2 separate regions of the Homo sapiens genome follow, and region 2 is linked to region 1. Evidence: fine-mapped expression QTL. Tissue or cell type: whole blood. Region 1 holds a variant in brackets; the other region holds the start of a gene. All regions are shown on one strand. Distances are from middle to middle.

The links. PIP is the estimated chance that this variant, and not a neighbour inherited with it, causes the effect.
Region 2: it holds the start of GRHL1, and the variant in region 1 is fine-mapped to the expression of GRHL1 in whole blood (INTERVAL, PIP above 0.99).

Annotation. Positions count from the first base shown.
Region 1 is chr2:9,989,857-9,997,960 of GRCh38, reverse strand. It overlaps GRHL1 (grainyhead like transcription factor 1), which reads right to left. Exons shown (of 16, transcript NM_198182.3): 10 at 7,214-7,265; 11 at 5,815-5,954; 12 at 4,717-4,754; 13 at 1,991-2,082; 14 at 1,560-1,645. It overlaps LOC124905970 (a long non-coding RNA gene), which reads left to right. Exons shown (of 2, transcript XR_007086207.1): 2 at 1,534-4,986. Among named protein-coding and RNA genes, the nearest start is that of GRHL1, 42 kb to the right of the region's middle. The variant G/A (reference allele first, on the strand shown) is at 4,269.
Region 2 is chr2:9,946,990-9,955,093 of GRCh38, reverse strand. GRHL1 (grainyhead like transcription factor 1) reads right to left here and starts at 3,401. Exons shown (of 16, transcript NM_198182.3): 1 at 3,241-3,401; 2 at 1-179. The coding sequence starts at 3,260. LOC105373422 (a long non-coding RNA gene) reads left to right here and starts at 4,241. Exons shown (of 3, transcript XR_922784.4): 1 at 4,241-4,389. RefSeq lists silencers at 3,111-3,650, 3,741-3,790, 3,891-3,940, 4,091-4,170.

The sequences.
Region 1 (8,104 bases):
GTAAGACCTGTCATGAGTTCCTCGTGAGCCATGAACAGTTATGCTGGCCCAGTAATTCTGCATCCTCTTTACTCTCCTCTTTCCCTGTAATCAGAATTTGCATGTTTTTTGTTTGTTTGTTTTTTGTTGTTTTTTTTTTTTTGAGACGGAGTCTTGCTATGCCAGGCTGGAGTACAGTGGCGGGATCTCAGCTCACTACAACCTCCACCTCCCTGGTTCAAGTGATTCTCCTGCCTCAGCCTCCCGAGTAGCTGGGATTACAGGCGCCTGCCACCAAGCCTGGCTAATTTTTTGTATTTTTAGTAGAGACAGGGTTTCTCCATGTTGGCCAGGCTGGTCTCGAACTCCTGACCTCAGGTGATCCTCCTGCCTCTGCCTCCCAAAGTGCTGGGATTACAGGTGTGAGCCACCGCACCTGGCCAGTTTGCATGATTCTTAAGACATGATGAAGGGTCATCAAAAGGCAAGAAAAGAGAAACCCAGGGGACATCCTAGGAGGCAGGAAGTGACAGTGGGAACGGCGCTGCCTGTGCTGTGGGCAGGCAGGGATGCACTGAGTGACACCCGTGGACTTGGGGCGCCTGGCTGAGAGACCGCACAGCAGCTCCCCAAACCCACGCCCCATCTCCCTGCTTTATTAATCTTCATGGCACTCATCAGTACCTGAAAAATGACCTCAACTTCTTTGCTTATTTTGGTGTCTGTGTCTTCCTAACTACAAAATAAACTCCATTCAGCACTGTGTCACTGACGCGCATAACTCCAGTGCCCGCCACAGTGCCTGGCATGAAGCAAGCCCTTTATCAAGATGTGTTAAATGAATTCAACACACTACAGTCATCAGAGGGAGCTGGGGGAGATGCTTTTAGCCCAATTATGGACACACTTTGAGCTTAAAGATCTCTACGGTCTCTAGGAGACAGGCTGGTAAATATCTGCACTCAGTGCTGATGACATGCGTTTTTCCAGTGCACAGCTGGAACGGGAAATTAACACAGCAGCCTTCCATGTTTCCTCTCTTACTGATATCCCCACAGGGAGCATGGGGTCAGTTTATTCCAGCCTCGTGCTGAGATCCTCGTAAGATGGACTTACGGCCATCACTGGTTACACGTCTACTTTCTCTGCAATAGGCTGTAGTGAGGTCTTGATGCAAGTTCAGTAATTTCCTAGGATTGGGAGTTTTAAAGGTAGACTGAGGAGCCACTGTTTTTATGTATGAAGTTTTTAAGATTGTACTTGATTAAAAATCACTTTTGTTAGCTTCTAAGTGGCTTGCTAAATGGCAATCTCCCTTTAACCACGTATATAAAAATTAAACATTTCATAGGCCATCACAGATGCATTCACTTCAGTGGAACAGGTGTGACTGAGTGACTGTGTGAGTTAAGACCCCTGGGTGAGGATAAAATGTGGGACGCACGACGACTCGAGAAAGGTGTCAGGGATTCCAGAAGGTCTGACAAAGGATTTGGATCATCTGATAAAGTGTTTCAATGAAATCCTATGTACTTGTCCTTTCATTTTGTACAGGGGATTACAGAGTTGATCCTACTTACAGCTTCCATCAAGCCCTTCAAAGATGGGGTTTTGAGCATCAGGGCATCAAAGACTTCTTCTGACTCCTTTCGAACGTAGAGCAGCACTAATCAATCCCCAACCAGGAATAAGGAAGGGAAAAGAGAGGAAAAAAAGGATACAGTTCACATGAGCAAAAGAGGAAAACAGACCACGGTACCAGCTAAAATAAAAACCACATTCACATCAAGGATGACAAGCATCAGCCAATATCAATTCTGTCTTAAGGAACACAGGTTTCAGCTTCTCTGAACTTTGCTCTAAGTCCTAGCTCAAGCTAGATGTCAGTCTGATGGAAGAATTCCCAAGCAAGTGAAACTGGGAAAAATGTGCTTGAACCATTTATGCTTTTGATAGATTCTGAACTCACTTCTGATTTAAAACTCCCACTAAGAAATGGAAACGAACACACCTCTCTTTGGTTCTTCTATCCGGGCCAGCTTGGTAGAAGGAGGGACAGCAAAGTCATCTTCTGTGCCGTACGGCCCCCTTTTCAAGACAGAGCTGCAGTGATCCAAAATATGCCGTTAGTGATTCAACTTAACCAGCTGCATCAACATTAAGGTGTTTTAGAGCCTGTCATGGAACTAGATTTAAAATGACTTTCATTCTTTATCTGGTCCAGCTTCCTTATTTGTGGATGAAAAATCAGGCTAAAGGAAGATCCTGACTCCAGGGCTCATGGATATTTACAGGCAGACATGGGACCACACTCAGGTTCCCTGCAGGTATCTGCACTCTCATCAGATAAAGCTGCCTTCTCGAAGATGAGGCGCTTTGGTTTTTTTTTTTTTTTGTGAGACAGGGTCTCATTCTGTTGCTCAGGCTGGAGTGCAGTGGTGCAATCATGGATCACGGCTCACTGCAGCCTCAACCGCCCAGGCCCAAGCAATCCTTCCACCTCAGCCTCCCAAGTGGCGCACACCACCACACCCAACTAATTTTTTTATTTTTGTAGAGATGGGTTCTCCCTATGTTGCCCAGGATGTTCTCAAATTCCTGGGCTCAAGCGATCTTCCTACCTTGGCCTCCCAAAGTGCTGGAATTATAGGCATGATCCACCACGCCTGGCTGTCTGGTGCTTCTTTTCAGGAAACACTCTATGGAGGAGGCAGGATCTGAGATAACCTTGTACAGGCAGTGACAAAGGAGATGATGTTTCAAAACACTGAGGAAGTGTGAGCAGGAAAATGCAGGGCCAGCCTGGCTCAAACAGAATGGCCCACAGGAAGCCATATCTAGAAATTTCGGGAAGCCGACTCTACCGTGAATGTCCTGATCATTCAGCTCTAAGGAATTAAATTTTACATGGCAGAGAAGAGGGAATAGTTGAAAGGTCTGTGAGACTGAGTGTGGTACCCAAAGTGTGTTGGTACCCAAAGTGTGTGGTCAAGACTGGAGGGGACCCCAGGACCTTCAAGCAGAAAAACCAGGGGAAGGAGGCTGGTATAATCCGAGCACAGGATTCCACAGGTTTAAAATATGGTGGTATCATGGAAGCCAAAAGGTGAGAACAGACCAAGGAGAGTCTGAGGAGAGAAAAACTCAGATCGAACGAACGCCTGGCTACCAGGGGCACCTGGCATGGAGGGTCCAGCAGGTGGTGTCACGGCAAGCAAGAGAAGAGGTAGATAACTGAAAGTGAAGGGAGGGAGTGCTGGATTTGGAGCAGAATGGCCACTTCAGGAGCAGGGGCTGAGCCTCCGAGACTCTGCCACCTCAGTTCCTAACACACAGCAGCCGTCTAGTGAAAGTGCCGGCAGGACTCAAGCCTGAAACACTAAGAATCAAAGGGGCAGTGCAGGCCTCGCCTTCAAAGAGAGGCACGATGGGTAACGTGTGGGGCATGAATGTCCCCAGTATGACGGTTTAAGCCCTGGGAATGGATGGAAGATGAGGGAAGAGGGATGCTGAGGAATGAACTTCCCATGGAAATCTTGGCTCTCTCCATCAGGATGCACCTTTCTGAGGGCAGATAACAGAAAGAGGGAGGCTGAGGCGGGAGGATTGCCTGAGACCAGGATCTCTACAATAATAATAATAATAATAATAATAATAATAATAATAATAATTAGATGGGTGTGGTGGCATGTGCCTGTAGTCCCACCTACTCAGGAGTCTGAGGCAGGAGGATCACTTAAGCCCAGAAGCTCAAGGCTGCAGTGAGCTGTGACTGCACCCCTGCACTCCTACATGGGCCTCAGAGCAAGACCCTGTCTCTAAAAGTAAAATGAAATAAAAACAAAAAGAATCTTTGCCTTGTTGAAAAAGTCCCAGAGCCATCAAGAAGGTTCTGATAGCCCAAAGAGGGGTAGCGTCAGCCCCCCTCCACTAGGCAGCATGAGTAGGGGGCTGCCCGGCACAGGAAGGCAGAGCCCAATTCTGGGACAACCTGAGCATCAAAGTAAATGACTAATGAATCACAGCTTATTGAATAAAACAGGAAACTATGAGTTCATACTGATAGCAATAAATGAACGAGTAAACTGAAAGTTTGATGGGGAATGAGATATTTACAAAGCTACAATGCACCTCCCCAGACAACACTTACTATAAAAGGAGCCACTTTGCAGTGGAGAAGCTGGCAGATACCAGCTTAATCAAGTGACCAAAGAACACCATTAGTAACAGATAAACTGACATCAAGCGCCATCTGCTAGGACACACGGAGAACCCAGCCTGGCCTCTAT[G/A]ACATCCCTGCCAGGCCTGGAATCTAACCATGAGAGAGCAGCAGACACACGCAAACTAAGAAGAGTCTACAAAACAGCTGGTTGTAATCTTCAAAAATATTTGGTCAGAAAAGTTAAGGAGTGGCTTAGTTCTAGACTGAAGAAGATCAACAAACATGACAAACAACTACAATGTGTGATCCTGAACTGGATCCTTTTTTGCTATAAAGGACATTATTGGTGCTAATGAAGCAATGTTAATATTCTAATCTTGACTGTGACACAGGAGGATGTCCTTGTTGGTAGGAAATATATACCACGATATTCAGGAGTGATGGGCCATCAGGCTGGCAACTTATCCTTGATGGCTCAGGGAAAAATGAGTTCTTTGTACTGTACTTGCAGTTTTTCTACAAGTTTGAAATCATTTCCATTATTAAAACAAAACAAAACAAAACATAAATCTTACCCTTCACCCTCCAATTCTTCAGAGGCAATGGGAAGGACCTAAGACCAAAGGAATAGATTGCTTTTCAAATGTATGCTCAAAATGTTTGGCCATAAATGAATTATTCCTAAAATGGAAATAATTTTGAATTTCACCAATCTAATATAAAATCCTTTAGCCTTAGTTTTCAATAACAGATTCTTACAGATGTCTTGAACTCCTTTAACTCAGTGGTTGGGCCAAATCTGGTCTAAAGCCAGTTCATGTAAATAAAGTCTTTACTGAAACAAAGCCACGCTCATTCATTCACATGCTGCTTATGGCCATGTGTGCACTAGTTCGGCAGCACTGAGCAGCACAGTGGAGACCACGGGGCCCCAAAAGCTGAAAACCTTTACGGCCCAGCCCTTCACAAAAACAGTGTGCTAACCCCTGCTCACCTCCAGCTTCCCATTAGAAACTAAATGTACTGGCCATGGCCCCAAGAACTCTGACGAATCTTTAGTCCTTATAAATCTGTCCACAAAGTGCATGAAAGACTGTCTTTTTGATATTTATTTGCACTCAGCATAAAACCATGCTTCATTCTACTGAAGTTTCTATCCCTTGTAAGCCTTTGCCACAAAACAGGGCGTGACCATTTTTTAAAATTTAGTTTTAGTTGCCAAGACATGGCCATTGGTAACTACACGTGGCAAGGACGGCTCAGTAACTGGAACTGTGAGAAAAGCCTTCGGATGTTCTTATGTTATAAGAGCTCCTTAACCTAGGTATTGCCCCAAGTTAAGTTTAAAAAGATGACAGGCTCAAACTCCAAATTATGCTACTATTCTAGAATCTTTTAAATGAGCTAGGATATGTAGGTATGAAGAACGAACGAATGAATGAATGAATACAAACAGAATAAAGCTGACAGGCTGCACTGCACCTTGAAATCAGCGATGCTTACCATTTTTATTGCACGGGCATCATGTCACCCCAGCAGAATATTCCAAAGAGCTGACTAACTGGTCAAACCTCACTCAATTTTGGCTTCTGTTTCCCATGAATAATGCCAAAGAATTTCCTTTTGCCATGCCTTCCTTCCTGGTAACCTCCCCTGGGATCCTGGTTACCTACATGAGTGCCCCGCTGCAAGTTGGCAAAGTGCACGTCAGGAATGAAGAGGACAGGCTGAGTATCGAGATCAATGAAGGGTTTGAAAACTGTGATATCCATTCGCTTGTGAGAGGGAAGCAGTGGCACTTTAACATCAGAAACTGAAAAAAAAAAAAATTAAAAAAGAGGAAGCCAAGGTCAAAGGATTACATACAGACTGGATGCAGGCCACAGAGTGCTCGCCTCTGAGTAAGATACTCCAAGTGTAGCACTCTGTAAGATACAACAGGGCACGCTGCCTGCCTAAGAATCCCAGTTTATGTAAAGGAATTTGTTGTGTGTATTTCCACTAAAATCAACTGAATGTCTTATCAAATCAAAAGGGAAAAGGTATCTTCAAACACACACAGACGCATATCCACAGAAGATTTGCGACAGAGGCAGAGCGTATTTAGTTTTCATTGGAAAGGCTAAAATGTATAATTGTGTAAACATAATTTGGAAGAAATTTCACCTCAGCTGTCCTCATTAAATAATTTACATTCCAACACTCATGGACCCATTGACTTCAGAACATATCAAGAAACTCGACAATGAGGTGAAGTGTAAGCATGCCCATCCAATTTTTAATTTAGTAAGTTAGAGACTCCATCTTCCCCAATGATCTGGCTGGCCCTGAAGTACTCAGTAATGAGGTCTCCTAGTTAGTCAGCTGCTCTCTGAAGTGTCACTGGGAGTTTGTACTTTGATACCAGTAGGAGAATCCTGACTAAGGTGTTGCAGGGCAAATGTCTGCTGAGCCAGACAGACCATTCAAAAGAGCTGCCAGAAGCCCATGTACTACAGATGGAACCCTACAGGCACAGAACAGCACTTTCTTCATTTTAGATACAAGATTTTGTGAATATGAATACTGGTCACAATTAAAAAAAAAAGAAAACAAAGCCTTCCTGGTGAAATGTCCAAACAGAAGCCCTATAGATTCTGCAAATATTAAAATACTATACTTTAGATACAAAATATGATCTTACTTGGAGTTAAGACATCTTGAATTCTCAAGACCATTATTATTACTTTAAAAAATCTAGATAAGTCCCAATTTTAACAGTGATTCATGCAGAACGTGTTGTCATTTTTCAAGACTGGAAACAGAAGTCTGAACTAGAACTGAGAGCCAAAAACGCTGAGGTCGGGAAAACCCAGGGATCTATCCTGTAGTCCCCAGGAAAACCCCTCCCGCTGAGCTGGCATCTGCTGCTGATCTGAGGAAGAGGCAGTGCCACACTGCAGAACAGGAAGAACACCCACTGTCTTCTGCGTGCAAACTCCAGCCACCATTCTCAATGGAAAAGGTCTGAAGCTTGCCGGGAACATTTCTACTTACAGGCATTCACCTGGGAGCTGGGGTCAGGACACTTGCCTTTTCTTTTGCTTTGCTTTCGTTCTTCATCCCTGATTTTCCGCTCAGCTCCCTGTAGGTTAAGAGAAGACAAGATATGATTCTGTTTTCCAATCTTCTTTAAAATATTTAACTCTTATCCTGACCAATGGAAGAAGAAGCCTTTCTCCCTTCTCTGGACAGGAACCCCATTACTTACTATATTCATGAGGCTTATCATAGTAGTTTCTTCTAAAAAGATTAGTCTTAAAATTATTTTTAATTCTATGAAATCACAGGGAACAACATTTATTTGAAAAACAAATAAAGCAAAATTCCGGCCGGAAGCGGTAGCTCATGCCTGTAATCCCAGCACTTTGGGAGGCCGAGGTGGGTGGATCATTTGAGGTCAGGAGTTCGAGACCAGCCTGGCCAACATGGTGAAACCCCACCTCTACTAAAAATACAAAAATTAGCCAGGCGTGGTAGCGGGCACCTGTAGTCCCAGCTACTTGGGAGGCTGAGGCAGGAGAACTGCTTGAACCCCTGAGAGGTGGAGGTTGCAGTGAGCTGAGATCACACCACTGCACTCCAGCCTGGGTGACAAAGCGAAACTCTGTCTCAAAAAAAAAAAGCAAAATTTCTCCTTATAATGGATGTGGTCGTGTTAAATGAAAGCTGAGAAAATCTGTGAGTATACCACATGCCTGCAAAGACACAAGGGTATTTTCCCTTTGTCCAGTAGGAAAAGGAAATGAAAGAAAAAACCCAAGTTGGCCCTACTCTTGAGTATACTCTCCTATATGGCCAAGGTTATCACTGAAGGCTGTGATTCAGTCCAAGGGCCTGGTATCAACCATGTGGCAGATCTAACCAAGCAGAATTCACAAAGTGAAGATGGAACTAGAAATATGCATCATCACTTAAAAGAGA
Region 2 (8,104 bases), 43 kb after region 1:
AGTCATAGAGCAGGCCCAGCGCAGCGGCGCTGTCTTCATCTCCATTGATGCTCATCATCGCTTTGGTCGCTGCAGTGAGAGGGTTTTCCAGGAAGGATTTCCAGGCCTCATCCTCACTAGTGTAGGACCGCCGCTGTGGATAAAGTGCTTCATTCTGAAGAACCAACACTGGCCGTTTGCTTCAGAGAAATTAAAAAAAAAACAAAAACACACACTTTTCTACTGCAAGGTATCATAAGCTACCAATTCCTTGACATTCCTATAAAATAGCCTATTGTTTCATCAATGACCCTAGGAAGTCAAATTAAGACAAGACCAGAAGACAAACCACGTAAGTGCAGACCAATGGGTCCCACAGTAAGACATAAAGTATCTAGGCAGCCAGAGAACTGGCAGTTCACCTACACGTGGAACCCAGGGTATACTATTTGGCAAAAAAGCGAAACAAAACCATCCCCGAGAAAATGCCAGGCTATTCAAATACTTTCCATAAACAAACACAAGGACACAGTAAAGAAAAGAGAATACTTGTTCTCTTCCAACACACAATCAGGACTGTCCCCTCTTGAGAAGAGCGTGTGCCGTTCATCACACTGCTACATGTTATTCCCTCTTTCTACTGTGGCTGCCATGCCTTAAAAATTCCTACCTGAACACAGTGGGGAGGGGAGAAGCAGCAGAAAGAAAAAGGGATCCTTCACGCAATCCTCCAGGGTATATGAGAAAGCCAGAATATTCTACTGATTACCAGCAGATTGAGCATGGAATGTGGCCAAAGGGGACTGTAAATCAATAAAGAGGCATAATTTTCTGGCATGGGAGTTAACTGTTTATCTTAGAGATAAACACTTAAGGATATCCAACAATAAATGAAGCCACTGAACAAAAAGTTTTAAAAAAAATAGGTGGGAAAATCTGGCTTTTAAAAAATCTTTGCTAGTTTTCCACATTGCACAAGAACTGTTTCATTTTAACACTGTAGTTTGGTGGGAAAAATCCAAAAAAATCAATGGCGATCTTAGTGAAACCTTACAGAAGATTTAATTTAAAAGATTAAAGCAAACATTACTAATTCCAAAAACTTGAAATGTAAACAGTCTCAACAACTGTTCGGTTGGTACTATTTAATAAGTCAATAAAGAGAAAAAATGGAACACTGACTCTAGCAAAACAAAGCAGTTTATTTTCAAGGAGAAAAATAAATTTTAAATGTTTGGAACTCCTCTGAATTATTACAATTCTAACAAGCAAATTGAAGGACTGGCTCTCATTGCAACACACAAATGAAATATGTAAATGGCCTAAAGGTGACCTGCCTATTTTAAAAGTGAATGTAGAAAGACTGATTATCTTTTCAAGTAATCAACAAAGGTTAGCGTTTGGGAGTCACCCAGGGCCTTTAAGAACAGATACAGATTTAGAAAAAGGAGAACATCTTCAAAAAAGGGGAAAAAAATCCAACAATGTATCCTCAGTCAAAATGAAGTGTTATTTGAAAGCCAATGTTTTTACTCACGTTTTGGCATAAACGTTACATTTGGTAAGAAAGTCTTGAGGTGGTATACTATTTTAACACAAAACAAACATAAAAGACTGTTCAAAGCCAGCAGATCATTTGTCTAAAAATGGAGAAGATTGCTTACACAAATCTCAACTTTAAAGAAAATAAAGAAATATACAAAGTGGCATTCCCTGAGCCATCAGGACCAGAGTACAACAGCTACTGAACGGCTGGTGCCATGGACTGATTGACTGATGTACTGCTAAGCTATAATTAATAGCGTAATAGCTACTTCCAGAAGACTATGACAGCACTTGGCTGTTCAATTCCCTTAATGCTAGTTTTCAACTTCCCTTCTTCTCCCACCCACATCCCAAATTTGTACAAGCAATAGAAAACAGAGAAAGAAATGGCTTTATGTTTGGAATCACCCTGAAGGTGTTTCATATTTCCAAAGCCTGCCTAAGGCCAAAATGTTAGCTTTGGAAAATTTGCCTTATCTAAACTATACGTCAAGAAATAAACACAAAACCAGTTGCCTTTCTTAGTCCACTTCCTCATGACAGTCAGGAAGTAGGCTTCAGTCGCCGAAGGCTCATCATCACTTTCAGGTGAGCCTTAAACTCCGCGTCTGCGATCTCTCAGACTTCTGAAATATGTTTCAGGCAATAATTTAACTGCATATTCTACAACATAAGAGTAATCCATTTAAGATACTCCATACAAAATATCTATCTCATCCAGAAAAAGAACACACTGACAAAAACCGATCCTTCACAAATAACTAAGAAACTGGGAGGGGTACCTATCTGCCTTAAACTTCCTGATCTGAAATATACTGACTGGCCTGGTGCGATTTCCCTGTTTTTTCTTTAGTAAGTTTTTAAAATTTTTAGGACAATTTTATATTTTCAGAAAAGCTGCAAAGAAAATACAGAAAACTCCCTCGCCCAGTTAATCCCCCATGCCTTATTACACTACCACCTCACATTTGTCGAAATACGCTTTTAAATCACACACTCTAAAAAGCATATTAGCTTGTACAGTACTTTCTCGTTTAACACCCGGATTTCAAAGTTTCATCCTCTTGATTCTCTCGAGCACTAAAAACACGGTAATCTGTAATTACCATCAATGATGCAAGTGGCAAAATAACTCCTACAGCCGTTTTCCCACTCATGCCGCCAGCCAGGGAAAAGAAAACGCCCGGACATCGGGGCACTTCAACCTTTCCCTACATTTCTGTTTTGGAGGTTCCAGCAGGTCGCCGAGTGACGAGCCTGAGACCACAGATTACCTGGAGAAGTCCACCTGTCCCGACGCGGCGCGAGCCCCACCAGGCTCCCGAGGCCGACCGGGCAGGAGAGGGGGGCGGGGAGGCCCGGGGGCGTTGGCTGCGCCCCGACCTCGCGCCGCACCCGACCGCGCCGGGGGCCCGGACCCCAAGGTGCGCGCCCGAGGGGACCCAACCTGGCCGCGGAGGAGGGGAGGAGGGTGGCCCCTCCGGTGTCGAGTTTCCCCGAGGACAGGGTCTCTCCTCCCGAGGCTCCGACCGAACAAAGAGCACGGCAGGGCTAAGGGGCAAAGGCCGTGGCGGCGTGGAGTGGACAGCGGCCCCCGGCTCGCGCCCCGCGCCCGCCCGCCCGCGCGGCCTCGGGTCTGCGCCCGGCTCGCTCGCTGCAGGTGCGGCCCCTCAGCGCGGCCCCCCCGCGGCGGCCGGACTCCTGCGCCTCACTCACTTGTCGTACTCCTGTGTCATCGCGCCCGCTCGCCGCTGCCGGGCCGCAGAACTGGACTTTCGGGTTGGGACAGTACACCCGATCCGGGGGGAGGAGGCGGCGGCGGCGGCTGCGGGTCCGGAGCGGCGGCCCCGACGGGTTGGGTTTGCTTTTCTCGCTCTGAGCCGGCTCCGCGCGGGCTGCGCGCACTGGGCGCCGGGCTCGGCCGCTCATTGGCTGGCGATGCGCCGGCTGGGGGCGAGGCCTCGGGGCTGGGAGGCCGGTCGCGCCTCCTGATTGGTCGGCGAGAAGAGCGCCGGGGCGGGGCTGACGGGGACGAGCGGCGCGGGGCGGGGGGCGGGGGCCGCGCGTTCCGCGAGGTTGCGCCCGGGACTGCGCTCCCGGGGCTGCGCGCCCGACTCGCGGCCGTACGCGCCTGCCCTGACAGGAGAGGGAGCGCTGCGGCTGCGGCGCGCACCCGCCAACCTCCGCGCGCACCGAGAGCGCCCCCGCTCGCGCCCCGCCACCGCCCCCGCCGCCCCCGCCGTCCCCGCCGTCCCCGGCCATCCCCTTCGCGACGAGCCCCGGCCGTACAGCCGCCTCCTTCTTCGCTCACTCAGGCCTCCGCGCCCCGTGCCCACATTGCCCGCTGTTCCGGCCCCAGCGCCCCGCGCTGCCCCTGCGCTCGCCCGGCGGGGGCGCCTCTGCCGGTCGCCGCGCTCCCCGGTCGCGCGTCTCACCTCTCGGTTCTCGCAGGCTGTCACGCCCGAGTCCCGTGGCTTCCCCCGAGAGCCGTCTCCGGAATGTCCCTTCTCCTGGCCCACCGCGGCCGCGCGCTTTTAGGATTTCTTGCCCTCGCAGCTCCCGCGGTCCCCTCGGCGGCAGTCCCTGGGGCTCCGCGATGTCTGTGCCCCGCAGCCTCCCGGGCGCCACTTCCCCGCGCGGCCGCCCCACGCTGCCCGTGCAGTCGCGCGCCCCGGGCCGGCCCCGGGCACCACTCCACCGCGACGGCCCCCACTTGTCCTTCCCGAGCTGCCGTCTTTCCCAGGGTCCGCTCACTGAGTCCCCACATGCCCAGCGTCGGACCTGACCCTCGGACAGGCGCGGCCCCAGACGCCGGGGACAGGGCAGTCAACAGAACAGACACAACTCCTCGCCTTCCTAGTTGGGGTAACGGGCAATACAAAAACAAGTAAATGGTGTGGCTGGTTGGAAGGTAAAGCAGGCAGGCCCTGGGGAGGCGGGGAGGAGCGAGGCTTTCAGGCTTGAAGGAGATGAGGGGCCACGAAGGTGGGACTGTACCTGAGGCAGGGACCCTGGTGTGTTTTGTGACCCTTGAGGAGACCCGGGTGGCTGGTGGGGCACAGGGAGGCGGGAGCTGCGGTCAGAGATAGTGGGCGCAGGGGAGCGGATTGAGCAGGGCCTTGCCGGCTTCCGTAAGGACTGTGGCTTTCCCTCTGGGCTAGGTGGGGACGCCTTGGAGGGGCTTGGAGCAGGGTAGTGACAGGGTCTCACATTTTAAAATAGTTCTCTGCTGCTGCGTGGTGGGGACCAGGTAGGAGGCCATTGCCATGATGCAGGCCGAGGGCAATAGAGTGAGGTGGTGGGAAGTGGCCGAATTCTGGATATGCTTTGAAGGTGGGACCAGCAGGATTGTCTGAAAATTGGATATGGGGTGTGAGAGAAAGAGAGAATCAAGGATGACTACAGCGTTTCCAGCTGGGCAACTGGAGGAATGATTTGCCATCCCCTGGGATACAGAAGACCTGGGGCATAGAAGATTTGGGGGAGAACGAGAGTCTGTTTTGGACGTGCTAAGCTCAAGATGTATGGGAGATAAAAATCCATGAATCAGGTGGGCTCCTGGGTACGAGGCTGGAGTGCAAGGGAGAAGTCTGGGCTGAAGCTCACATCTGGGCGCCGCCCACGTCTAGAGGCCATTTAAAGCCATGAGAAGGCAGGAAGGAAAGAGGATGGGACCCATGCTGGATCCAGGAGCCTCCGACACAGAAAGGCTGGGAGGAAGAGCCAGTGGAGGAGACAGAAGACGGGGACACCGAGGTCGGAAGCAATGGAAGCGTGGAAGCCAAGGGAAGGAGGTGAAGTGAGGAGCAGCATGAGGTCACAGGGCCCTCCTGCAGCCAGCAGTCCCTCCTCTGTGCCCTGGTCCAAGGCCTTCAGGGACCGGAATCGGCAGCCTCACTTGAGACCGCCCTTCGCAGTTTCTGTCCTCTGACCCCGGGCCCAGCACTGGATCCATGCAGCCTGTTGTTTGTTCTTACCACTAGTTTCCTGTTTAAATCATTTATTATTTTTTTCTTTTCCTTTTTTTTTTTTTTTTTTTTTTTGAGGCGGAATCTCCCTCTGTTGCCCAGGCTGGAGTGCAGTGCCGTGATCTCAGCTTACTGCAACCTCTGCCTCCTGGGTTCAAGCGACTCTCCTGCCTCAGCCTCCCAAGTAGCTAGGATCACAGGCGCCCACCACCACGCTCGGCTAATTTTTCTATTTTTAGTAGAGATGGGGTTTCACTAAGTTGACCAGGCAGGTCTCAAACTCCTGACCTCAGGCAATCTGCCCGCCTCGGCCTCTCAAAGTGCTGGGATTACAGGCATGAGTCACCGCGCCCTGCCAAATCAATTATGTTTTCTAAGCACGCTAATTTAAGAAAAATGCTAGTCAATAACAGCACAGATGGTCCCAAATAGGGTACAAGTCATCAGGGTGGTGCCAAAGTGACTGACTTGGGAACAGTGTCCCTCTACCTGCCTTTCTTCTATTTCCTCTGACCCGGCTCCACACTGCCACTGGAGTGGCCTTTATAAAACACAGATTTCTTGTCACTCAGTTATACTCACCATAAAGTCCACACTCCTGAGCTCAGCCTCCCCTTGGCGGCCCAGCACTTCCCTTACTGCTCACTCCCAAGCACCGTCCCCGCATTCCCTGCTCCTTCCCTCCATGCTTGGCCCACTCCACTCAACTTCCAGCCTGGCTCATTTCCTCCAGGTGGCCTTCCCAACCCTCTAGGCTGGACAAGGTGTCCTGTGGGATCCACAGCGCCTTCTGCATTGCCCATCACCATGTTTGTCTTATGGGCTTTCCTGTTTGTGTCTGTCTCCACCAAGTGTGAGCTTTTCCAGAGAGGGCAGCGGTTGTACCACCTTCATTTTTATGTTCCTGGTGCCTGGTATATACATAGAAAATATCCAGCAAATGTCTACTGAATGGATGCAGTCCTCTGCAGGCATGCGTTCTGCGCCCAGTCTCCTCCCTTCTGTAGCATAGCTAGGGCTCTTTTAAATGACCCCCCCCACCGTTGCAGAAGATGAAAGTCCTTGAGCCTAATACATGGTAGGCACAAAATAAATAGGGGATGAATGAAGAAATATCCAATCATAAAGCCAAAAACAAGAACAGGAAGAGCCTGAGGTTATTAGACCATAGCTGTAGTAATTAAAAACATTGGGTCTATTTTGTCAATTTGAATATGGGATTGTTTAGTTTGTCTCTAATAGCTCTCTAAAACAGAAATGAAAATCTCTATCTATGACCTGTTGCCATGAACCCTGTTTATTTCATTTTATTTTATCTGAGACAGGGTCTCACTGTGTTACTCAGGCTGGAGTGCAGTGGCACCATCACAGCTCACCGCAGCCTTGACTTCCCAGGCTCAAGTGATTCTCCCACCTCAGCCTCCTGAGTAGCTGGGGCTACACGTGCACACCACCACACCTGGCTAGTGTGTATGTGTGTGTGTGTGTATGTTTTGTAGAGACAGGGTCTCACCATATTGCCCAGGCTGGTCTTGAACTCCTGTGCTCCAACGATCCTCCCATCCTCCCAGCCTCCCAAAGTGCTGGGATTACAGATGTGAACCACCATGCCTGGCCTACCCTCTTCATTTTTAAGTTCTTTACTATTTGTTTAAATTATTAAAGTAATATATGCACATAGTTTTTATGGAAGAAAAAATGCTGGGCGTGCTGGCTCACGCCTGTAATCCCAGAGCTTTGGGAGGCCGATGTGGGCAGATCACCTGAGGTCAGGGGTTTGAGACCAGCCTGGCCAACATGGTGAAACCCCATCTCTAACAAAAATACAAAAATTAGCCGGGCATGGTGGTGGGTATCTGTATTCCCAGCTACTCGGGAGGCTGAGGCAGGAGAATCGCTTGAACCCAGAAGGCGGAGGTTGCAGTGAGCCAAGATCGCGCCACTGCACTCCAGCCTGGGTGACAACAAGACTCCATCTCAAAAATAAAAAAAGATAGAAAGGGATTAGGAACGGGACAAAGAAAGGAGAAAGGAAGAAATTGAAGCTCTGCAGAAGGATACAGAATGCAGTCCCTGGCCTCCTCCATTCCCAGCCCCTAATCCTTGAGACAACCACTGTGAACAATTTGTGTTGATCTTTCCAGATATCTTCTGTCTGTACAAGCACTCACATGGTTTATTTTCTTAGACAAATGGGATTCGGACTGCACAATCTTCCACAGCTTGCTTGTTTTTCCTTTCTATGGTTTAAACATTTTCCACATCAGCACATAGAAATCTAGTTCACTTTAAAAAATGGCTGTATGGTGTTTCCTTGAATGGCTATATGATAACTTGAATGTATTGGTGAGCAATTAGGGTTTTTTCCCCTAGCTTTTCTTAATTACAAACATTCACAATAACACATTCCTCTAACTACATTTTTGCACACTTGATCAGGTATTGCCATAGGATAAATTCCTAGAATCGGAGTTACTGAGAAAAGGGAATGCACAGCTGCCATTTGGTTTTTTGTTTGTTTGTTTTTTGAGATGGAGTTTGGCTCTTGTTGCCCAGGCTGGAATGCAGTGATGCAATCTCTGCTCACTGCAACCTCCACGTCCCGGGTTCAA